Homo sapiens: one gene and its partners. The protein of the gene in region 6 purifies or fractionates together with the protein of the main gene of each other region. This does not show direct contact. Each region holds a gene or a part of one and is shown on either strand. Other genes may lie near its edges.

Region 1 (2,598 bases), on a different chromosome or scaffold from region 6:
CTGTCACATGGTGGCTTCTTAGACACTGAGTCAGAGAATATGTATGCTGTGCTCAAGGGAGAGGTCCCAAGATGCCTGGGTCATGTCTCCCTCTTCCGCCTCCGCCCTGCTGTCTGTCCATAGGCTGAGCCTTGTCAATCCTGTGGCAGCCCATGGAATGGCTCTCCCCTTGTGTACACACATACACACACATTCACACACACACATTCACACACACACATTCACACACACACACACATTCTCACACACACATATTCACACACATTCACACATACACATTCACATACACATTCACATACACATTCACACACATTCACAAATACACATTCACACATACACATTCACACACACACATTCACACACACATTCTCACACACACATTCACACACATTCTCACACATTCACACACACATTCACACATTCACACACACACATTCACACATACACATTCACACACACATTCACACGCACGCATTCACACGCACGCATTCACACACACTCACATTCACACACATTCACACACTCACACACACACATTCACACACACACACACATACACACACACACCCTTTCTCCACCTTGGTGGAAGCAGGATCAAGAGAAGGGAGTACAGGTGGGAAGAAGAAAGAAAAGCCGAAGAAAAACAAGGCTTTTCCAGAACTCTTTTGGGGAGCAGAAGAGAAGCCTGGGCTGGAGAGAGGTCAAAGATCTGGCAGTCCCACCTCATCCCACCCAACCCCAGCCCCATATCCCAAGAAGGCTGACCCACCTGCAGCCACTGATCGTTACCGTAGCTCCCCGCAACCCAGGCGTTGAAGTTGCCCTGCTTGTCCAGCCGTGCATAGGAGGGGTTCCAGCTGAAGAGATGCAAGCCCCAGGTCTTGTAGCTGCTGGAGGCCGTGATCTGCTTGTCAGGGATGCTGTTATTCTTCAGGCCCAGGGGATTGGCGCATCCTGCCAGCAAGGTGGGCTGTCATCTGGATCTGGGATCCACAGCTCCCAGGGGCAGGAGCACAAGGCGATGAAGCAGAAAGAACTCTGTGGATCCTGACCAGCCCCTGTCATGCTCTTGGGCAACAGAAAGCAGCTCCATCCGCCTTGCAGGGCCAACTGTGCGACCTTCTCACTGCCGACCCCACCACCTCCTCACCTCAACCAGCCGGGCTCAGCTCCTCACAGATCACCCAAGACCTCCCACTCACCACCCTTCTCCTCTGCACCAGGGAAGGCCCCTGCTCCACCACCTCCTGCCCTCCTTCAATGCCTGACTTTGGAGACACCTCCTCCAAGAAGTCTGCCCTGACTACTTCACTTGGGCAGGATTTCTTCCTCTTCTGGACTCACAGCACTGCCCCCATCGCCTCGGCCTCCCATCCGTCCCATGGCACAGTCACTATCTACTTTAATAACAACCACATTGTTTATTCAGTGCTTACTTCAGTCATTTAACCTGCCACCAAAAAAAAAAAGAAAAAAAAACACTAAATGAAGTAGAAATTAGTAAGCCCATTCTATAGATGAGAAAACTGAAAGACATTAAGCATCATGCTCAAGTCACATACAAACTCCTAATGTCACACTATGACGTCACCTCTACCAGCTACACATCCCAGCTAGATGATGAAGGCCTGCCTAGTGACGACCCAGTGATGAACAGGACAACATCCCTGCCCTCCAGCAGCTGGCAGTTAGAGAAATCAGACAACTCCTGGGGCACAGGAACATCTCTATTTCCATTCCCCAGAAGCCCCCTGACTTAGTGTCTCCCAGAGGGCCTTCGCACACTCAAATGTTCTGGGGATGCTGTCACACAGGCCTGTGAGGGCTGGCCCGGGAAGCTGGCCTTTGTTTCACTCAGCCCTGCCCCAAACACTCAGGAATGTGCCGGGCTGCCTTGCACTTGTATCTGCACCTGCATATGGATAGAACAGTTGGGGATGGGCAAGAGATACAACTCCCAAGAGAATGATGGGGGTGTCTCCCACCTGGAAGAATCCTCACTCCACAAGTGTCTATCCCTCTGGGGAATTGAGGGAGGCAGGAGTGGACGGTGGGACTGGAGAGCCCCCTGCCCTCTGGGAGCCAGCTAAGTTATATCACTGCCCTCCAATACTCTCACCACTCAAGAGTACTGGGAGCCAGCTAAGTTATATCACTGCCCACCTGTACTCTCACCACTCAAGACATTTGCCTCCAGGGTGTGTTGACAATGCCTGCTGATGGTACCATCATCTCCTGATGGTGATGCACCAGGGAACCACCACCTTCCCCCTCAAAGAGAGGCTCCCGGGCTGAGAGCTGGTTGTCCCTTGGCCCCAGAAGAGGAGAGGCCTGAGGCAGGCTAAAACCTGGGCAGCTTTGCAGAGGACACCAATTCTGCACAATGTGCTCAACGCAGACCCCTCTACAGATCATCTGCTTCTAGTGGTTCATACCCTCCTCACTCTCAGCCTCCCCAGGAAGTCAGACAGCCTTTCTGGTAAAATGCAGTTGGAAGGGGCACCAGGGCAGGGACAGGACTGTCAGCTCCAGCACTCTAGGAAGTCCCTTCCTCTCTCTGGCTCTCAGTCTCCCCATCTATAAAATGAGATACTAGGG
Region 2 (3,500 bases), about 44 Mb from region 6:
AATATTATTTGTTTATTTATTTATTGAGATGGGGTCTCACTCTGCCACCCAGGCTGGAGTGCAGTGGTGCGATCTCAGCTCACTGTAAGCTCCACTTCTCAGGCTCAAGCAATCCTCCCACCTCGGCCTCCCGAGTAGCTGGGACCACAGGCGCATGCCACCAGGCCCAGCTAATTTTTGTAACTTTTTGGGTGGAGACGGGGTTTCACCATGTTGCCCAGGCTGGTCTCAAACTCCTGGGCTAAGGTGATCCACCTGCCTCAGCCTCCCAAAGTGCTGGGATTGCAGGTGTGAGCCACTGTGCCTGGCCAAGAATATTGTTTCTATGAAAAAAGTTAATACTTTACTTTGGAAAGAAAATATGCTGTCAAACTAGGAATGGAATGAATAAGACAGTTATTTAAAAAGTGGAAGTGGGCTATAAAAATCTAGAAAGAATCAGCATTCAGGTTGCATCAGTGTCTAAGATCTTATTTGACTTTAAAGAGACCCAAACTGGGAATTATAAGCAGTGCATTGTGGGTGTAGGATATGCAGAAAAACAACACAGAAGTCTAATCAGTGAATTCATATTCAAAAGGCCTTATATTTTTTAAATAGCAAGTGATTCTACATTGATATATTTCTGATAAAATATTGAAATATTTTAAGATATGTATAATGTTTTATGACTTCCTAGCATAAGACCTTTTTCTTTTTTGAGACAAGGTTTTGCTCTGTAGCCCAGGCTGGAGTGCAGTGGCGTGATCAGAACTCGCTGCAACTACCTCCCCAGCTCAAGCAATCCTCCCTCCTCAGCCCTGGAAGTAGCTGAAACTACAGGCACGTGCCACCACACCTGGCTGATTTTTTATATTTTTTGTAGAGATGGAGATTTGCCTGCCTCAGCCTCCCAAAGTGCCAGTATTACAGGCATGAGCCATTGTGCCCGGCCTTAAGACCTTTTGATTAACTGATCAACTATTGTCCTGACTATATCAAATAAGAGGATTTCTAACTCAGGAACCTCTCAACATCTAGCACCATTTTCCAGAACTTAGTTCATTTAAAGAGGAAACAGGAAATCCCAGAGACACAAAGTAATACAAAAAGTTTCACACTTACTGTCAGTTCCTTCATGGTAATGTTCAAATACTGGCAAAGTAACACCTGTTAAACACAGAAGCATACATGGATTCATAAACCTTTAAGTTCTCTCTTTTTTTTTTTTTTCTGAGACGGAGTTTTGCTCTTGTCGCCGAGGCTGGAATGCAATGGCGTGATCTCGCCTCACCGCAACCTCTGCCTCCCAGGTTCAAGCAATTCTCCTGGTCAGCCTCCTGAATAGGTGGGATTACAGGCATGCACCACCACACCCGGCTAATTTTGTATTTTTAGTAGACACGGGGTTTCTCCATGTTGGTAAGGTTGGTCTTGAACTTCCGACCTCAGGTGATCCACCCGCCTAAACCTCCCAAAGTGCTGGGATTACAGGTATGAGCCACCGCGCCTGGCCTAAATTCTGTTTCTTAATCACTGTTTTCTGTGTTTCTTTTTCATCAAACTCAAAAATCAAGAGCTTAAGTATGGAATTGTAATTGGTTTCAATTAATGAATTTAGGAACTTGCCTTCTTTTTTTTTTTTTGAGACAGAGTCTCACTCTGTCGCCCAGGCTGCAGTGCAGTGGTGTGGTCTTCAGCTCACTGCAACCACCGCCTCCTGGGGTCAAGTGATTCTCCCACCTCAGCCTCCTGAGTAGCTGGGACAACAGGCACATGCCATGCCCAGCTAATTTTTTTTTTTTTTTAAAGATGAGTTTCGCTCTTGTTGCCTGGGCTGGAGTACAATGGCGCAATCTCGGCTCACCACAACCTCTGCCTCCTGGGTCCAAGTGAGTCTCCTGCCTCAGCCTCTCAAGTAGCTGGGATTACAGGCATGCGCTACCACGTCTGGCTTATTTTGTATTTTTAGTAGAGACAGGATTTCTCCATATTAGGCTGGTCTCGAACTCCCGACCTCAGGCGATCCGCCCACCTTGGCTTCCCAAAGCACTGGGATTACAGGTGTGAGCCATCACACCCGGCCTAATTTTTGTATTCTTTGGTAAAGATGGGGTTTCACCATGTTGGCCAGGCTGGTCTCGAACTCCTGACCTTGTGATCCGCCCACCTCAGCCTCCCAAAGTGCTGGGATTACAGGTGTGAGCCACCACATCCAGTGGAACCTGACTTCTTTATTTTTTTATTTTTTATTTTTAGACAGAGTCTTGCTCTGTCACCCAGGCTGGAGTGCAGTGGTGCAATCTCGGCTCACTGGAACCTCCGCTTCCCGGGTTCAAGCGATTCTCCTGCCTCAGCCTCCCAAGTAGCTGGGGCTACAGGCGCGTGCCACCAAACCTGGCTAATTTTTGTATTATTAGTAGAGATGGGGTTTCACCATGTTGGCCAGGCTGGTCTCGAACTCCTGACCTTGTGATTCGCCCACCTCGGCCTCCCAAAGTGCTGGGATTACAGGCATGAGCCACCGTGCCCAGCCGGAACCTGCCTTCTTAAGTGTTCACTTCTATACAAAAGTCAAGTTATCCTGAGTAATTAGAAACCTGGTTGTTAATGATTTTAACATGTAAAGCCAATCAACTTGTTCTAAGTAGAAGGAAGAAACTAGGACATTAAGATCTTGCTGTATAAACAGGTTAATTTTAAAATGTCACCTCTTTTCTCCCCAAAGGGTTTCTAAAAGGTTGAAACGTTACCTGCTACATTATCTTTCTTCGCTCGAATCTTCACTTGCGCTTTATTGACATTTTGGATAACTGTAGTGCTGCAGAAAAAGAGAAAGACTTTATTTAGCAGACTCTTCAGAAATAAACCTACAGGGACCCACTGGATAGTTTTAACATTAAATGAGACCAAGAGTGAGATGTCACAATTAAGTATGTTTTGATAACTGTCCTTTTTCCAAAAAGGGAGAAAAGTCATTACTGCTAGAGGAGGGCCTCTGAAAGCAGAGAATGAACAATATTCAAAACATTAGCAGTAAGAAAAGAACAAAGAATGATTTTAAAGTTCGTGGATTGCTTATGTTTTCAGTCAGAGGTGTGCTACATGGATATAACTTTAAGGATTCTTCTGCTAGTGTGAGATAGAGAAAACTCCTTTCTAGGTTTGCTATTGAATTGGTTAAGCTGGCGTTCAATTCCTTTACCCTGGAAACTATGTTCCATCTGGCTTTGTGTGACTTCTCAAATGTTACCAGAAAGTGCCTTCCTGGCAGGGTGCGATAGCTCACGCCTGTAATCCTGGCACTTTGGGAGGCCGAGGCAGGAGGATTGTTTGAGGCCAGGAGTTCAAAACCAGCCTGGGCAATGTGGTGAAACTCAAAAATACAAAAATTAGCCAGTCTCATAACCCAATCTCAAAACAAAACAAAAATAAATATTATAGAAAGTATCTTCCCCATAACCACCCTAAAACACTCACATACCACTTATACACTATTGATTGATCTCCACCCTCTGCTA
Region 3 (3,500 bases), on a different chromosome or scaffold from region 6:
CAGCATTGCATGCTACAGAGAAATCATCTGTGAAAGGAAGAATCTATGATGCAGAAAACTTCATTGTTATTTTAAGAAATTGCCACAGCCACCCCAAACTTCAGCAATCCCACAACCCTGATAAGTCAGCAGCCATCAACATGGAGGCAAGATTTTCCACCAGCAGAATGATAAATACCTGCTGAAAGCTCAGATGGCTGTACTTTTTAGCAATAAGATATTTTTAAATTAAGGTATGTACTTTTTTAAACATAATACCATTGTGCATTTAATAGACTACCACATAGTGGAAACATAACTTTTATATGAACTGGGAAACTAAAAATTTGTATGACTTGCTTTATTCCAATATTCACTTTATTGCAGTGGTTTGGAACTAAACCTGTAATATCTCTGAGGTATGCCTGTATAACAATTTTTTTGTTTACATGATGTCTTGTAAAAGATTAGCATAAACTGCTAAATACATATTCTGAAAGTATATCATCTAGATTTAAATCTAGACTATCTTCTAGATGTGCTATCTGTGGCACACTCTTGGCATTCTGTGCCCAATTTCCTCATAAGAAAATTGAACATAACAATGTTGTCACCTTTGTTCTTGGCACATGGCAAATGCTCAATAACTATTAGCTTTTATTATTAGAAATATCTGGATTTAAAGGATATCCTCTGTAATAAATATCAACTTACCAAATTTAATGTATTCATTCAAAAATATTTGAGCGCCTACTATGTGTCATAATTGTTCTAAGAGTTAGTAATACAGCAGTAAACAAAACAAAGTTCCTGCCCTCAAGGAACTTGCATATCAGAGGCAGGAGATGAATACATGTAACAGAGGAAGGCAAGCACAGAAAAAAATAGTGACGAGTGTGAGTGCATACTATGTAATACAGGAGGTCCACTGAACAGAACAGAGAAAGTGAGGGACAGTGGTGGGAGAAGAGATCACAGGCGGGGCAACAAAGAGCCAGATCTGTACAGGCAATTAAGCAATGAGATGAGAAGCCACTGGAGAATTCTGAACCCATTTGACTTAGTATTTTTAAAGAATCCCTCTCGCTGCTGAGTGGACAGCAGATGACAGGGCTAAACATTTTACATGCTTAGTGAGAAACAGGCCATCCTTCAAAGCCCCATTCAGTACCGAACTTATAAGCCAAATACATCAAACTAAGGATATTACTGGCTGGGCACAGTGGCTCACGCCTATAATCCTAGCACTTTGGGAGGCTTGAGGCGGGCGGATTGCCTGAGCTCAAGAGTTTGAGCCCAGCCTGGGGAGCATGATGAAACCCTATCTCTACAAAAAATTAGCCGGGCATGGTGGTAAGCACCTGTAGTCCCTCTTACTTGGGGGACTAAGGTGGGAGGATGGATTGAGCCCAGGAGGTCAAGGCTGCAGTGAGTCAAGATCGTGCATGCCACTGCGCTCCAGCCTGGGTACAAGTGAGACCCTGTCTCAAAAAAAAAAAAAAAAAAAAAAAAAAATTATTTAACCATGGGGGTTTAACTACAAATTAAGACATGTAGTTTCAACCGTATAACCTAAGTCACTTTAAAAAGTGATAAATGAAAAATTAGTATGAGAAAAATTAATAGAAAAAGGCTCAGTATGCCTATTAGCATTGTTCTTTTTTTTAATATTAAAAAAAATTTTTTTAGAGACAAAGTTTCACTCTGTTGCCCAGGCTAGAGTGCAGTGGCACAATCACAGCTCACTGCAGCTTTCAACTCCTGGGTTCAAGTGATCCTCCCATTTCAGCCTCCCATGTAGCTGGGACTATAGGCATGCATCACCATGTCCGGCTAATTTTTTAATTTTTTTGTAGAGACAAGGTCTGTGTTGCCCAGGCTAGTCTTGGACTACTGGGCTCAAGAGATCTTCCCTTCTCGGCCTCCCAAAGTGTTGGGATTACAGTTGTGAGCCACGGCACCTGGCCTTGCACTGTTCTTTAATGATTTACTAAAAATGCATGAAAACAAATGGCAAACAAACAAACAAACAAAAAACCCGAAAATTGAATTTTCAATGCATGCCTTTTTTCTACTATAAAAATATAAGCTATTTGAATGAGAATTCTTGAATGAAACATTTCATTCAATAGTTGTTGAAAAAGCACGCATGTACGTTTACCACATAATGATGAGTGTGTGCAAAATTATAAAAGATTATTTATATTAAAGTTATCTAGAACTTAAATACTGTCCTAAGAATTGAGAAGCTAAATAAAATTCATGTCAAAACAAATATTCTAGGCCAGGCACAGTGGCTCACACCTGCAATTCCAGCATTTTGGGAGGCCACGGTGGGTAGATTGCTTGAGCTCAGGAGTTCGAGACCAGCCTGGGAAATGCGGCAAAACTCCATTTCTACCAAAATACAAAAATTAGCTGGGTGTTGTGACATGTGTCTGTCGTCCCAGCTACTTGGGAGGATCGCTTAAGCTACTTGGGAGGATCGCTTAAACCTAGGAGGCTGAAGCAGAGATGGCACCATTACACTCCAGCCTGAGTGACAGAGCAAGACCCCGTCTCAAAAAAAAAAAAAAAAAAGAAATGAAATATTCTAAAATTGGCTAACTAGACTCTTCTTAAATGAAGTACAAACCATTCATGTGCACTGTTGCACATTAACAAAATCACTCACATTTAATAATTCGTTAGCTAAATCTATCCACAAGTAATAAGTAGCTATAAATTGGCTCAAACATAGGAATATATTACGTTCCTTTACCTGTATTTAATTTTCAGGCAAAAGAGCCCTGGTAAGCCAAATAATTTCTTGCCAATTTGAGGGGTTGAATAACCAGAAAGCCCTTTCTCCAATGTGCTTTCCTTGTATATACTGTTTGTCCATTGTCAAACACCATGAATTTGGTATCACATATTTTAGAGGATTCTTTTTCTTGATATTGTTCAGTCTCTTAAGAATAAATTGTCTGCTTCAATTTGCATTTATGAAATAAATCTTTTTATGTTTTAGTAATGTTTTACATTAGCAGTTACTTTAAAATCTTGAGAATACACAAAACAAGCTGAACAAAATATTAAGAATTGGCAGATGGAATTCGCGATATGTCTTTCCAAAGACTTTATTCCTCAACATGTCTTTTGAAAGGGTATTTCTGCAATATGCTTTGCAATATTAAAGTAGAAGCCATTTATGATTTAGCAAAAATAATACAAGGCATAAACAACAGAGGTATTTAAATTAGCTGTCCTATATGTAGGCTAAACTGAGTCTTAAGAGAGAGTACTCACTGAAAATAATGATTTCATGGATGAAGATATAGTTCCTACATACTTACAAATAACCTAGTCTGACAATGATATCTCTATTTTCACAAACACTGTATTCCTTTGATTTTTCTAGTGTTATACTGTTTTGTGTGTAACAGTAATAACAGTAATAGATGTTTCAAGAGTTTACTGTATGTCAAGTACTATACTGTTTCACATTTAATCCTCATAATCCTATAAAATATCATCTCTAT
Region 4 (3,500 bases), on a different chromosome or scaffold from region 6:
AGTGAACAGTTCAGTGACATTTGTTTATTTATTTATTTACAAAGTCTTGCTTGGTTGCCCAGGCTGGAGTGCAGTGGTGTGCTCAAGGCTCACTGCACCCTTGACCTATCAGGCTCAAGCAGTTATCCCATATCACCCTCCTGAGTAGCCGAGACTACAGGCATATGCTAACATGCCTGGCTCGTGTTTTTGTTTTTATTTTTGAGGTGGAGTCTCGCTCTGTTGCCCAGGCTGGAGTGCAGTGGTGCAATCTCTGCTCACTGCAGCCTCCACCTTCAGGTTCAAGAGATTCTCTTGCCTCAGCCTCTCGAGTAGCTGGGATTACAGGCACCCGCCACCATGCCCAGCTAATTTTTGTATTTTTTGTAGAGACAGATTTCACCATGTTGACCAGGCTGGTCTTGAACTCCTGACCTCAAGTGATCTGCCTGCCTCGGCCTCCCAATGTGGTGGGATTACAGGCGTGAGCCACCATGCCTGGCCTTTTTTGTATTTTTTGTAGAGACAGTGTTTTGCCATGTTGCCCAGGCTGGCATTTATAATGTAGTACAACCACCACCTCTATGTCATTCGAAAATATTTTCATCACCCTAAAAGGAAACCCCATAGCCAAAAAGTAATTGTTCACCATTCCTCCTCCCCCAGCAACTGGCACCCACCAGTCTCTACATTCTGTTTCTGTGTAACTGGCACCCACCAGTCTCTACATTTTGTTTCTGTGTATTTTCTTTATCAGTATATTTCATATAAATGGAATCATAAAATGTGGCCTTTTGTTTTTGGCTTCTTTTACTTACCATGATTTTGAAGTTCATCCATTTTATAGCGTCCTATTATGTTTTATATTGGATGTCATACATACATTGTGAATCTTATGCTGTTGTGCTAGATTTTGTTTTATTCCTTTAAAGAACGTAAGAGTTTGTTTTGCCATCCACTTAAGTTACTGAGACCCAAATTTGATCTGAGATTTGTTTTCTATCTTTCTTAAGGTAAGTAAAGAACAGCCTTTAATTCATGGCCAATATAGTCGTTCTGAGGACTGGACCCAATTCCCTGTGTATTTACAAGTTTCTCCAGTTTGGCCCATGGGATCATGAACTATTCCTAGCTCTGTGCAAACTCCCAAAAGTTATTCAACCTGCTACTAGTTCTTTTCCTGGACTTGGGGAGTTTCCTCTCAAACTTATGCAGAGACTGGAGGAGACTTTTATGCAGATCTCCAAAGTTCTCTCATGTGTCTCCCTTTTCTGAAGTACTCTTCCTCACAAGTCTCACCTCCTTGGCCATACGAACTTCATGTATCTCTGACTTCTCAATTTGGCGATGTCTCGGGATTGTGTTTCTGTTCTCTGTTCCTGTGCTGCAACCTGGAAACTTTCTCCAGACAGTAAGCTGGGACATAGATCCTAAGGGCTTTACCTCTTTTGTTTTCTTATATAGATGATCACAGAAAATGCCTGATAAATGTTGTTTGATAAAATTTTTCTGATTTACTAGTTTTTTTTAACACTGGTCAAGTGGTTCATATAGCATTTCTCCCCCATGGGCAGATGTTACTGAATTTTTAAATCAGTATAGTGTAAGGGGAGTCTATCTTGAACTTCAGGCAAATGGATTTATTTAAGGACCTCATCAACAAGTGATCTTGTCAGTAACTTGGTCATGTGGCATGATGTTTGAATTCTTCAAGTGTTCTTATGTAAACTTAAAACATGTTAGCTTTAGGACTTTTTTCATATTTAGATATAATTTTATGGTTTTGTTTAGTTGAGTGGTTCTCTTAGAAGTAAATGTCAGTACCTTATTGGGTATGTCTCTCACAGTATCTATCATTATTTTAGTATTTCCCAACCCTAGACTGGAGCTATTGGCTACAAATTCACTGCAGAATTAATTTACCTTCAGAAATGCTATTTTTTCCAGTTAAGTCTGATATAATAATTTACAAACTGATGTGTATTTTTTGTTAAATGTAATTATGCATTAGGTTCAGGGATCAATAAACTATAGCCCACACACCAAACCTGAATGAAACAATTACTGATAAATGTAATACTCCCAGGTAGTAGCTTAAGAAGCTGAACGTGAGGGGGTGTGGAGAGGAGTATAAAGGGGAATCTCCAAAACTCCTGTTTTTACTAATGACTAAGCATGAGGAAGACTGAACGTGGAACAAAATTATATTGACCATATTGACAAAATTATCTTTATATTGCCATGTTTTGCTTTGGTTTCCTTTTTTAAATGGAAGGTAGACTATGAAGACATTCTTGCTGTGAAAGTTCAAACAATACAGAATTTGAAGTAAAAAGTGGGGAGTGTAGGATAGAGATGGTGGTGCTGTTTGGGAGAGTGACTACAGAGATACGAGTTCTCTTAATTAAAGGACTTTACTTAGCTTTCTAAAGAGTGTTGGTTTTTATTCTGAAGGCAGGTGGGAGCTATTGAATTTTAGCAGAGATGTGATGTGGTCAGTTTGGGACAGATTGTGGTTGCAGTAGTGTTTTGGATATATGCATTCCAAGTTTAGGAGCAAGACGAGTTATTCTTTGTTAATGGGAAAGTCCTTAGGAGCCCTGGACTGGTTGGTTCTTAGGTCTTGTGGACGTTGTCTAGTTGGGAATGATACAGATAAATAGGTGAGATAGATGGTATCATTTAGAAAGAATTGATAACACTGTAAAGGTCAGTGAACTGGAGAAACAAGGACCTGGTTTTAAAATCCTGCTTGAAACCACCACATAACACTTTTTTACCTTCACTTATAAAACAGTAATGATACTTATTTAAAAAAAAAAAAACTCACAGTGACAGTGCAAATTTTAGTAAATAAAATACCGGTATGCTCTTGAGAGTCTTGCAAGAAACATACTTAACTTTAAGGTGGAGTGGAATAAGGAAAAAAAAACATTAAAAAAATTAAGACAGCAAGAATATGTAAGGCAGTGAAGATAAGAATCATGGTAAGAATATTAAGATCAATTAAGTAATGTGCAAAGTAAGCAGAAATCCATCTCTGTTCATTAATATCAAGCTTTATTAATGTTTGCTTTCTTTTATCCTCACTTTAACATATTTGATATTTAAAGTGACCTAATATTAAATTAACCAGTTCTGGAAAATTGCAATTATCTGCTATAACTTGCAAGAAAAAGACTAGCTATTGGCAATATGTCAGTTAATTGAATGTGGTAATTTACTGATTAGCCTTTAAGTTTACATAAGATTAAAGGTACGTTGAGGAGTTTAAAAGCCAGCCAGTCATACTAAAAAAAAGAATTCAGGTTTTCAGTAGCTTCTGAAGATATATATTTAAATATGCCCATGTTAATTGTACACTTAAATTAATAGCAACTGTATACTTACTGCTATTTAATTGCTAGGCAGGGTCAAGGTTAGATAAATAGAATATAGGATGCTTCGTATTCAATTTACCACTGAACTTTAAAAACTTAATTTATATTACTTTAAATTCTGTAGACGTTTTTAAAGACCTT
Region 5 (3,500 bases), on a different chromosome or scaffold from region 6:
AGTTCACGACCAGCCTGGGCAACAAAGCAAGACCCCATCTCCATAAAAAATAAAAATAAGTTAGCTGGGCACAGTAGTGTGTGCCTGTAGTCCTAGCTACTCAGGAGACTGAGGTGGGAGGGTCACTTAAGCCCAGGAGTTCAAGGCTGCAGTCATGCCGCTGCACTCCAGCCTAGGTGATAGAGCAAGACCCTATCTCAAACAAAACGAAACCAAAACAAAACAAAACTCTCTTGGAAAGGTTTTCTCTCTGAAAGCAGTTCCCCTGTCCAGAAGATGCTTATGGCCCACGTATCTTCTTCCAACTGGTCAAGACAGTTAAATACTTCAAAATGCCCCAAGAGGTCCCAAAATTTAGTCAAGGCAAGTATCAATCAGGCTACATACTTTCTAGGTGTGACAAATATCAGAGTTTTGAGAAAGACATTAAAATCATCATGGAATCCTTGGAGGCCTGAGATACTAAAGCACCAATGCAGACAGTCTTATAGGAAGTCTGGAACCAATACTTCTTCCGTCAGTAACATAGGCCTTTCTAGACTTTGGTCTAGAAGAAGATGATTTTTTTGTGCTTCGAGTTAGGGATCTGTCCTTTTGACTTTAACCTTCTAACGGCTTCCCTCATATGTTTGGGTTGTAGTGGTGGCATTTCTCCCCACTTCTCACACACATCCAGTGCTAAACAGAGGGTAAGGAGAAAGTCTGATTATCACACAATAATTTACTAATCACATAATCCTTTTGAGTCCTGTAATTCTTGTTAACTTTTCTTAAGCTTGCTAAGGAAATAAACAGACATTTTTCCTTTTTAAGAGAATATTAGTATAACGTCTCATAACAGGCTTTATCATAGACAACAGTTTAAAATATATTTCCTATAGGCCATATGCTGTGGCTCATGCCTATAATCCCAGCAGTTAGGGAGGCCAAGGTGGGAGGATTGCTTGAGCCTAGGAGTTCGAGACCAACCTGGGCAACATGGCCAAACCTTGTCTCTACAAAAAATTAAAAAGTTAGCCAGGGGTGGTGGTGCGCACCTGTGGTCTCAACTACTCAGACTGAGGCAGGAGAATCACCCGAGCCCAGGAGCTAACTGTTACAGTGAGCTGTGATCGCATGATCAAGGCACTCCAGCCTGGGTGACAGAGTGAGACCCTGTCTCAAATAACTACATAAAAATAAAATTAAAAATTAGCCAGGTATGGTAGTGCACGCCTACAGTCCCAGCTACTTGGGAGGCTGAGGCAAGAGGATCCTTTGAGCCCAGGAGTTTGAGGTTGTAGTGAGCTATGATCACACCACTGTTACCATCTCATTTTGTATACCATCTTAATTTGTGATTTGTAAAAGGAAAAATAAAAAATATTAAAAAAAATAATAAAGATCATGCCACTGCACTCCAGCCTGGGTGACAGAGTGAGACCCTGTCTCAAAAAATAATAATAATTTAAAAGTATATATCTCCTGCTCAAAAAAAAAAAAAAAATTTCACCAGCTAGAGTAGCAATGGGAAACAGCCAGGCTTTTTACTCAATAAAGGGGTCAGGCAGTTCCTAGGGATCACAACATTAGGGACAACTCACCATCCCACACAGGTCACCCCTGTGATTGCTTTTCTTGTATCTTTACTTTTGGCAGCAGAAATGAGCAAAGTCCACTGCAGAAAATACAAAGTCTACTTCTTTCACCCTGGGCTGAGGAAAGGAATCAGGGAGGGGATTTCCCAGATGGTTCCTTACCATCTGTTATTGAAACTTGCAAGGAATAACAGTCATGTTCTCCTAAATAAAGGGCTCCCCACTTGGTCAACTTCAAGTGCAAATGAGAACTCCCATAGGTGCTTTAATAAGCTCCTTTGTGTAGATATTCTTAAAAATAAGACCACCACAGGTACAATCCAGTATTTGTAACCAACACTACTCACCTTCTTCTACCACCTCCCCGACGAAAACCTTGGAAATACCAGACATAGCAATAACAACATTCTGAGACACAGAGGTGCCAGTGATGGACTGGATCAGCTTGAAAGAAGCACAAAGACTCCGTGATCACAATAGTCAAAGACTGGCTTTGGAACACAGTACCAAGTAATTCACAGAAAAAGGTAAGATAACTGAAGTGCATTTTTTTTCCCACCTAAATAATCCCCTGACTTGTCTAACACCTCACTTCAAATGCCAATGGACATGGCTCTTGAGTTCAGTTCTAAAACGTGATGGAGATGAAGTGTGGTGGTCCATCCTTACCCTTTTGATGGCTGCCTTAGGGAAAGCTGAGCGGCGATACATTTCATAACGGTTCAGCTGCTCCTCAGAAAAAGAAGAAACCAGGATTCTAAACAAAGATCCAGGTAACTAAGTTAACTTATAAGAACGAATACTCAAGATATTATGAAGTCAATAAAAGTTTCAGACAATTCAAAAACGAATTCTTAAAGGGGTCAATGGCATTAGGCTTGGTGCCTTGAGGAATGAAGATAAAACACTTCTACTCCAAAGGAATTTGAGAAAACGTAAAACAAAAACTTCTTTTCTTACCTGTTAACAAAAAGAACAACACTGGGTCACTGTATCGTACTACACAGACTGTTTGCAGCATTAGACACTATCTCCATAACTCTATCTTATTGAATTTCACACTGATGGTAAAAATTTAATATACAAATTTATAATCAAACCAGTAGTTTTCAACATTAACAGATTTAGGGGAAATATCTGCAAAATATGTGGAAACAGTTAATACTCCTAATGTATAATTCTTTCAAATGAATAAAGGGGCCATGTCAATTTTTGAAAATGAACAAAGTACATGAACAGGAAATTTACCAAAATACCAATGGTCAATCAACATGGGGGAAACAACCTTCATTATTAACTAAGGAAATATTATTTTCATAGATAACATTTTTCATAAATCAGACCACTATTAAAAAAAGAATGGTATTAGAATATGGGACACAAACACATGCTGGCAGAGTGAACTGGAACACCTTTTTGGAGAGAAATTTGGAAATACATATGAAAAGCCTTTGAAAATGTTCATACTATTTGAATTAGCAATTACACCTCTAGGAGTTTATCTTAGGAAGTAATGGACAAGTATGCAAAGATATGTCCAAAGATCCTCATCATAATGTCAAAAGTAAAAATACCCAACCAGAAGCACTATAGGGATTGGTTAAATTATAGTTCAACAACATAATGGGATACAATGTAGCCATTAAAAATTATGATTTATGAGCATATTTACTGACATGAAAATATTTAGCTATACATATCAAACATCTAAAAAAACTTTGAAAAGGTACATACCCAAACATTATACCCAACTATATACTTAGAGTGAACTCTGCGTGGTGAGTTTATGGGTGATTTTTTTCTATTTTTCTGTATTCTCTGAATTATTTGCAATGAGCCCATACTACTTTTACAATCAGAAAATGTAATAAAGCTATTTCTATTTTTAAGAAAACTATGACCTAGATGTATAATTAGTGACAT
Region 6 (3,210 bases):
TGGAGCTGGGACAGGTCAGCATCCATCTTCTTCTTCTGGTTGATGAGGCTGGTGTTCTGGGTTGGGGGAGGGTTGGGCAGAGCAGGAAAAGCATTGAGCATCTATGCATAGCTCTCAAGCCTTGCTTGCTGAGCCCCAGCCTGTGCTCCCTTCAGGAATGAGCAGGGGAGCTGCTCACCTGGGAATGCAGCAGCTGCACCCGCTCACTAGTCTCAATCAGCTCCTGCTCCGCCAGCTTCCGGGACCGCTCTGTCTGCTCCACCACGGCACGCAACTCCTCCAGCTCAGCCTGCAGCAGGTTGTTGCGCCGCTCCACGATGGCGATGTTCTCCTTCAGGTCGTCGTTGGCACGGACTGCATCGTCCAGCTGAATCTGGGTGTCCTGAGGATCAGGAGAGTGGGCATGAGCAGGGAGCCAGCCTCGGTTCCCTTCACTAAAGGCACCTGTCAGAGGTCCCTGCAGTAACCTAGGGGCAGGAGGAATCTGGTGCCTGTATCAAGACACTACTGCTTCGCCAGGCCACGTGGAGGCCAGTCCCCTCTGGGTGAGTACCTTCAACAAGCTCTGGAGGCTCTTGACTTGCTTCTGGGCCTCGGCGGCCATGCGGTTGGCGTGGCTGAGCTGGATCTCCATCTCATTGAGGTCTCCTTCCATCTTCTTCTTCACCCTCAGGGCCTCGTTGCGGCTGCGTGTCTCTGCGTCCAGGGAGGTCTGCAGCGAGTCCACCACCCGCAGGTGGTTGCGCTTGGCCTGTTCCATCTCCTCGTCCTTCTCTGCCAGCTTCCGCTCGATCTCTGCCTTGATCTGGTTGAACTCCAGCTGGGCCCGGAGGATCTTGCCCTCCTCGTGCTCCAGGGAGGCCTGGGAAGGGGTTGGGGGAGGGGATGCAGGCAGACAGTCAGGGCACAGGGCAGGGTGGGGGCCTGCTCACTAATCATGGATACGAAGTGACTTCAAGAGTGGTGTAAGTGGTTCAAAGAAGCAGAAGGTGGAGGAAAAGAGAATCTAAGAGAAAATAAAAATAAGCCTAAGAGAAAGTGATTCAGGCCCTCACAGGGGAGAGCCAGCTATGAAGACAAGGAGGAAAATGAAGAGAAAAGTGTTGCCAAGGAAACAGAGGCAATCAGGTATAGAGTATAAAAGAAAACAGAGGGAGGCAGAGGTGGGAACCGGGAGGTATGTGGAAATGGGAAGCTCAGCTAAGATGCAATGGGTAAAATGTTTATGTGAAGAGAGTTCAGTGACTGGTCATTCATTCACTCCACAAATCTTCACTGAATGCCTACTATGTGCCAGGCTCTGTCCTAGGCTCTGGGGATGGGACAGTGAACAAAACGGACAAAGCGGGGGATGAGAACAGGGACCAAAAGCCTGGAGCTCAGCTCCCTGCACCCCGTGCCCTGCACACACACACACCTCGGCCTCCTCCAGGGCTGACTGCAGCTCCATCTTCTCGGCCTCCAGCTGCTTTCGGACCTTCTCCAGCTCATGGATAGTCTTTCCGCTGGAACCCAACTGCTCAGTCAAGTCGGAGATCTCCTCTGTGTGGGGAACACGGTAACTCGGTTGAGGGCTGCTGAGGTCCAGTGGAGTTGGAGGGACACGCCTCTTTGCCCAGACGCCTCTTGGAGCCCTTGGGTGGCACCATATGGGAACACTGCCAGTGCAGCCCCTCCCCAGCCTCTTGGGCCCCCAGCACACCCTGCAGGTTTTTGTTCTCCCGCTTGAAGGTCTCCAGATGTTCCAGGGACTCCTCATAGGCGTTCTTGAGTTTGAAGAGCTCTGTGCTGAGGGAGCGAGCCTCCTTCTGCGAGGACTCCAGCTCCGACTGCGACTCCTCATACTTCTGCTTCCACTCGGCCAGGATCTGCCCGGGGACAAGGCTCACTCTTCAGCCCCCCAGCCTCAGCCCCATGTCCAGGGTCTGTCTCAGGACCTGCCTGGGCTCAGCCCTCCTCCCCCACCTCCAAGGAGGATGGCTCTGGCCTCTCACTGAACCCCTCATGCCCCCTTGCCCTGCATGCTGGCTGCGGCCCCCACCCAGGGCCCACCTTGTCGAAGTTCCTCTGCTTCTTGTCCAGGGCTGCAGCAGCAGCATTGGAGCGCTCTACGTCCACCATCAAGTCCTCGATCTCATTCTGTAGCCGGTGCTTGGTCTTCTCCAGCGAGGAGCACTTGGCATTAACAGCCTCCACGGCCTCCTCAGCTTCCTGCAGCCGCTGGGCCAGCTTCTTCCTGCCCAGGGGAGGGTGGCAGAGGGTGGGGAGGATGGAGGGTGTGGATGGGGACAAGAGGAAACAACATGAACCTTCTCAAAGACAATCCTTGAAACCTCAGAAGTGTAGCTGGAGAAGCCTGAGGACAGGTCCCAGGGGCCGAGAACATCAGGCAGAGGATCCCAGCAGGGCGTGGAGACCCAGGCACCCTCTGACCCTGGCCCAGCCTCTGCGCTATGGACATTGAGGAGGTATGGGCTTCTGCAGCCCTCCCCACTGCCTTTCCCTGCCACAGTGCCCTGCCCCAGACGGAAGCACTCTGCCCTCAGACAAACCTTTTGTTCGTCTTATATTCGGATCAGAAACATAATTCGAGCAAAAAGCTTCCCTGAGAGGAGAAGGAGGTGGGGCCGGGGCAGAGTCCTCCTGTGTTGTCAAACACTAGCTAAGCATCGCCTGTGTGGGATCTGCTGAGGCTGGGGCTGGGCTGAGTCCTGCCTGCAAAGGGGCCTCAGCCAGAAGTCAGGCTGCTCAGAACTCACTTGGCCTCCTCGAGCTCCTCAGTCCGCTGAATGGCGTCCGTCTCATACTTGGTCCTCCACTGGGCCACCTCCGAGTTGGCCTTGGAAAGGACGCGCTGCAGCTCGGCCTTGGCCTCCGTCTCCTCCTCGTACTGCTCCCGCAGCAGGTCGCAGTCATGCCGGGCCGACTGCAGTGCGTGGGCCAGGGCGTTCTTCGCCTGGGGAGGGGTGGGCACCAGGAGGTGGGTTCAGCTTTCTCCATAAAGCAACCCCACCCTTGCCCTTCTCCTCACCCCAATCTCAACATCATCCCTTGGCCTCATCTATGTCCAAACCCCCAGTGGACCTGTCATGGTTTACTGTTTGCTGATAACAAAGAATGCCAATACAGCAGTGAACTATTTAAGAAAAGCTTCATGGCCATTGGCCCTGAGCTCCTCCCCACACCAGACATGGTCATCATCACCGCCAT
Region 7 (3,500 bases), on a different chromosome or scaffold from region 6:
GTGTCTCACTCATCGAGAAAACTGGTGTCTGGCCTGCAGCGAGCACGTGGTGTCATTTTGTTGCTGAATCTCTGTTAAGTGCTTGCTACCGAAGGGTCGTGAGAGGGGCAGAGGACAGTGTTTGCCAAGCTCTCATCCTGTGCCAGGGCCAATGAGAGGGGACACACAGGGGCCTTTCCTTCCTAATGCTGCTGTGCCTCCACTAACAAGAGCCCAGGTTTTGCCCCTGGTGACACCGTCCCTCCCACCGCACCCCCGCAGCCACAGCCAACTGACCAAGGGCAGCCAGTCAGCTCCTTCCTTCCTCCTCCAGCTTCAGCACTGACTCTGGGCTCCCACAAGCCCCTGCGCTTCCTCTGTCCCACCCGGGTCTCTCCTCGCAGATCATCACTCCCTGTCCCTCTCTGGCTACTTGCACAACCCGAAGCCAGAGCCGCTAACGACGCTTGCTTCTTCCTGTAAGTCACACATGTACGCGGTTGTCACCCAAAGAGCACAAACGCAGTCAAAGTCTTCCTCACACAAAACCCCCTGCACACGCTCACGGCTGCACCACTCACAAAAGGTGGAAGCAACCCTAATGTCCATCCACTGATGAAGGGATACGTCAGACGTGTTCTAGCCATACAGCGGAAAAGTACTCAGCAAAAAAGGGACACAGCACTGACGAAAGGCCGCCACACACATGAGCGATGAACACATTCAGAGAAAGCAGCCAGACACAAGAGGCTGCATATTCCAAGATCCCATTTATAGGAAATGCCCAGAATAGGCAGATCCATGGAGACAGAAAGTTAGATGAGTGGCTGCCAGGGGTGGGGGCAGATGGGCTGAATGCAGGGAGAGAGCTAAAGGATTTAGGCTTTTTGGGGTGATGAGAGAGTTCTAAAATTGACTGTGGTGATGGTTGCCTAACTCTGAACATACTAAATACCATTGAACTATATATACTTTAAATGGGTGAATTGTATAGTATGTGAATTATAGCTCAATAAAGCAGTTAGCAAATGAAGTCTTCTACCCTGTCCCCCAGGAAACCAGTTTCTTAGCTCTCCTTATAGAATGATGCATTAAAAGCAAATAGATTTATACATATGCCCTGCATTACAATAAAAAAGACGTCTACATACTCCCTGCATTACAATAAAAAAGACGTCTACATACTCCCTGCATTAAAAGCAAAAAGATTTCTACATACTCTTCTGCCCACCTTGTAAATTTGTTACTATTTTCATTTTATATATTTCCCCCTTAATATTTTGAAAAGTTTCAAACCTGCAGAGAAGGTACAAATTGAGTACAGTGAACAGCCATGGCCCTTTGCCTAGATTCACTGGCTGTTGGCATGACACCTCATTTGCTTTATGCTTTATCCAAGCACATGCATATACCTGTACCTTTTGTCCTTTTTTTGGCTGAACTATTTGAAAGTTGTGGTCATCATGATACTTCACCTCTGAAAACTCCAGCAGTTAACTCTTTTTTTTTTTTTTTTTTTTTTTTTGAGACGGAGTCTTGCTCTGTCACCCAGGCTGGAGTACAGTGGTGCGACCTTGGCTCACTGCAACCTCTGCCTCCCAGGTTCAAGCGATTCTCCTATTGCAGCTTCCTGAGTAGCTGGGACTATAGGCGCGCACCACCACATCTGGCTAATTTTTGTATTTTTAGTAAAGATGGGGTTTCACCATCTTTGCCAGGCTGCTCTTGAACTCCTGACCTTATGATCTACGTGCCTCTGCCTCCCAGAGTGCTGGGATTACAGGCATGAGCCACCGCACCTGGCCTCTTTTTTTTTTTTTGGTACAGTATTTTACTCTGTCATGCAGGTTGTAGTGCAGTGGGGTGGTCACAGCTCACTGCAGCCTCGACCTCCCCAGGCTCAGCTGATCCTCAGCCTCTCGAGTAGCTGGGACTAAAGGTGTGTGCCACCACACCCTGCTAATTTTTATATTGTTTATAGAGACAGGGTGTCACCATGTTGCCTAGGCTGATCTCAAACTCCTGGGTTCAAGCAATCCCCCTGCCTCGGCCTCCAAATGTCCTGGGATTACAGCCGTGAGCCACCGTACCTGGCCTCCAGCAGTCAGCTCTTAAGAACAGGGATGTCCGCCTGCAGAACTACAGTGTCATTGTCATCATCATGCAGTTTAACATGAGACAGTGACGTTATTGAATAGACGATTCTTATTTAGATCTGCCACGTGTCCCTGTAATATTCTTCAAGGCTATAAATAATTTCTTATTTTTTTTTTTTTTCCAAGACTGAGTCTTGCTCTATCGCCCAGGCTGGAGTGCAGTGGCACTATCTCGGCTCACTGCAACCTCTGCCTCCTGGGTTCAAGCCATTCTCTTGCCTCAGCCTCCCGAATAGCTGGAATTACAGGCATGCACCACCACGCCCGGCTAATTTTTTTGTATTTTTTGTAGAGACGGGGTTTCATTTTGGCCAGGCTGGTCTCGAACCCCTGACCTCAGGTGATCCGCCCGCCTTGGGCTCCCAAAGTGCTAGGATTACAGGCGTGAGCCACCATGTCCAGCCTGTTTTTTTTTTTGTTTTTTGTTTTGTTTTTTTTTTCTTTTTTGAAACAGAGCCTCATTGTCACCCAGGCTGGAGTGCAGTGGTGCGATCTTGGCTCACTGCAACCTCCACCTCCCAGGTTCAATCAATTCTCCTGCCTCAGCCTCCCGAGTAGCTAGGATTACAGGCGCCTGGCACCACGCCCAGCTAATTTTTATATTTTTAGTAGAGACAGGGTTTCACCATGTTGGCCAGGCTGGTCTCAAACTCTTGACCTCAGGTAATCCACCCACCTCAGCCTCTCATAGTGTTGGGATTACAGGTGTGAGCCACTGCGCCTGGCCAATAATTTCTTTTTTTCTTTTCTTTTCTTTTTTTTTTTTCAAGTTACATGAAGTAAATTTATTATTTACAGCTAGGCAACAAGGGAAAACCGAAGCATAGGATTCATTGTGAGCCAATCTCCCGAGACTCAGGAAGGTTGCCCCGGGAGGATGGAGTCTCATTTGTGTGTACCCCATTTGTACCTGGAAAGCAGACCATCTTGGGTTTTATATTCTGGAGGCAACATGACATGTTGGGCTAAAATGATGAAGGACATCCTGTTTCTAGGAGGGACTGGAACAGAGCCTGGGCTGTTTCAGCCAGTCCCTCCTTATCTCAGGATATTGCATTCCTAGCACATTCTACAGTTATTCTTGAGAACTATTTTTTTTTTTTTTTTAGTATTTATTGATCATTCTTGGGTGTTTCTTGGAGAGGGGGATTTGGCAGGGTCATAGGACAATAGTGGAGGGAAGGTCAGCAGATAAACAAGTGAACAAAAGTCTCTGGTTTTCCTAGGCAGAGGGCCCTGCGGCCTTCCGCAGTGTTTGTGTCCCTGGGTACTTGAGATTAGGGAGTGGTGATGACTCTTAAGGAGCATGCTGCCTTCAAGCATCTGTTTAACAAAGCACATCTTGCACCGCCCTTAATCCATTTA

Evidence for each region.
Region 1: the proteins of MYH7 (region 6) and MFGE8 purify together in Homo sapiens (co-immunoprecipitation; one large-scale study listed by IntAct). This does not show direct contact.
Region 2: the proteins of MYH7 (region 6) and ATP6V1D purify together in Homo sapiens (affinity purification with mass spectrometry; one large-scale study listed by BioGRID and IntAct). This does not show direct contact.
Region 3: the proteins of MYH7 (region 6) and CLINT1 purify together in Homo sapiens (affinity purification with mass spectrometry; one large-scale study listed by BioGRID and IntAct). This does not show direct contact.
Region 4: the proteins of MYH7 (region 6) and PPP3R1 purify together in Homo sapiens (affinity purification with mass spectrometry, with the first as the bait; one large-scale study listed by BioGRID). This does not show direct contact.
Region 5: the proteins of MYH7 (region 6) and TAF11 purify together in Homo sapiens (affinity purification with mass spectrometry; one large-scale study listed by BioGRID and IntAct). This does not show direct contact.
Region 7: the proteins of MYH7 (region 6) and POLD1 purify together in Homo sapiens (affinity purification with mass spectrometry; one large-scale study listed by BioGRID and IntAct). This does not show direct contact.

Annotation. Positions count from the first base shown.
Region 1 is NC_000015.10:88,900,782-88,903,379, forward strand, and holds part of MFGE8 (lactadherin isoform a preproprotein), read right to left. Parts: exon of another isoform or gene 1,402-2,598; intron 955-1,401; coding exon 770-954; intron 1-769.
Region 2 is NC_000014.9:67,346,305-67,349,804, forward strand, and holds part of ATP6V1D (V-type proton ATPase subunit D), read right to left. Parts: intron 2,801-3,500; coding exon 2,733-2,800; intron 1,150-2,732; coding exon 1,105-1,149; intron 1-1,104. UniProt on the Homo sapiens protein: Subunit of the V1 complex of vacuolar(H+)-ATPase (V-ATPase), a multisubunit enzyme composed of a peripheral complex (V1) that hydrolyzes ATP and a membrane integral complex (V0) that translocates protons.
Region 3 is NC_000005.10:157,849,146-157,852,645, forward strand, and holds part of CLINT1 (clathrin interactor 1), read right to left. Parts: intron 1-3,500. UniProt on the Homo sapiens protein: Binds to membranes enriched in phosphatidylinositol 4,5-bisphosphate (PtdIns(4,5)P2). May have a role in transport via clathrin-coated vesicles from the trans-Golgi network to endosomes. Stimulates clathrin assembly.
Region 4 is NC_000002.12:68,218,033-68,221,532, reverse strand, and holds part of PPP3R1 (calcineurin subunit B type 1), read left to right. Parts: intron 1-3,500. UniProt on the Homo sapiens protein: Regulatory subunit of calcineurin, a calcium-dependent, calmodulin stimulated protein phosphatase. Confers calcium sensitivity.
Region 5 is NC_000006.12:34,878,043-34,881,542, forward strand, and holds part of TAF11 (transcription initiation factor TFIID subunit 11), read right to left. Parts: intron 2,335-3,500; coding exon 2,247-2,334; intron 2,022-2,246; coding exon 1,925-2,021; intron 679-1,924; coding exon 548-678; 3' UTR 1-547. UniProt on the Homo sapiens protein: The TFIID basal transcription factor complex plays a major role in the initiation of RNA polymerase II (Pol II)-dependent transcription.
Region 6 is NC_000014.9:23,415,451-23,418,660, forward strand, and holds part of MYH7 (myosin-7), read right to left. Parts: intron 2,957-3,210; coding exon 2,760-2,956; intron 2,614-2,759; exon of another isoform or gene 2,537-2,613; intron 2,237-2,536; coding exon 2,053-2,236; intron 1,924-2,052; exon of another isoform or gene 1,869-1,923; coding exon 1,703-1,868; intron 1,559-1,702; exon of another isoform or gene 1,543-1,558; coding exon 1,418-1,542; intron 863-1,417; coding exon 554-862; exon of another isoform or gene 551-553; intron 383-550; coding exon 179-382; exon of another isoform or gene 171-178; intron 57-170; coding exon 1-56. UniProt on the Homo sapiens protein: Myosins are actin-based motor molecules with ATPase activity essential for muscle contraction. Forms regular bipolar thick filaments that, together with actin thin filaments, constitute the fundamental contractile unit of skeletal and cardiac muscle.
Region 7 is NC_000019.10:50,387,347-50,390,846, forward strand, and holds part of POLD1 (DNA polymerase delta catalytic subunit), read left to right. Parts: intron 1-313; exon of another isoform or gene 314-458; intron 459-3,500. UniProt on the Homo sapiens protein: As the catalytic component of the trimeric (Pol-delta3 complex) and tetrameric DNA polymerase delta complexes (Pol-delta4 complex), plays a crucial role in high fidelity genome replication, including in lagging strand synthesis, and repair.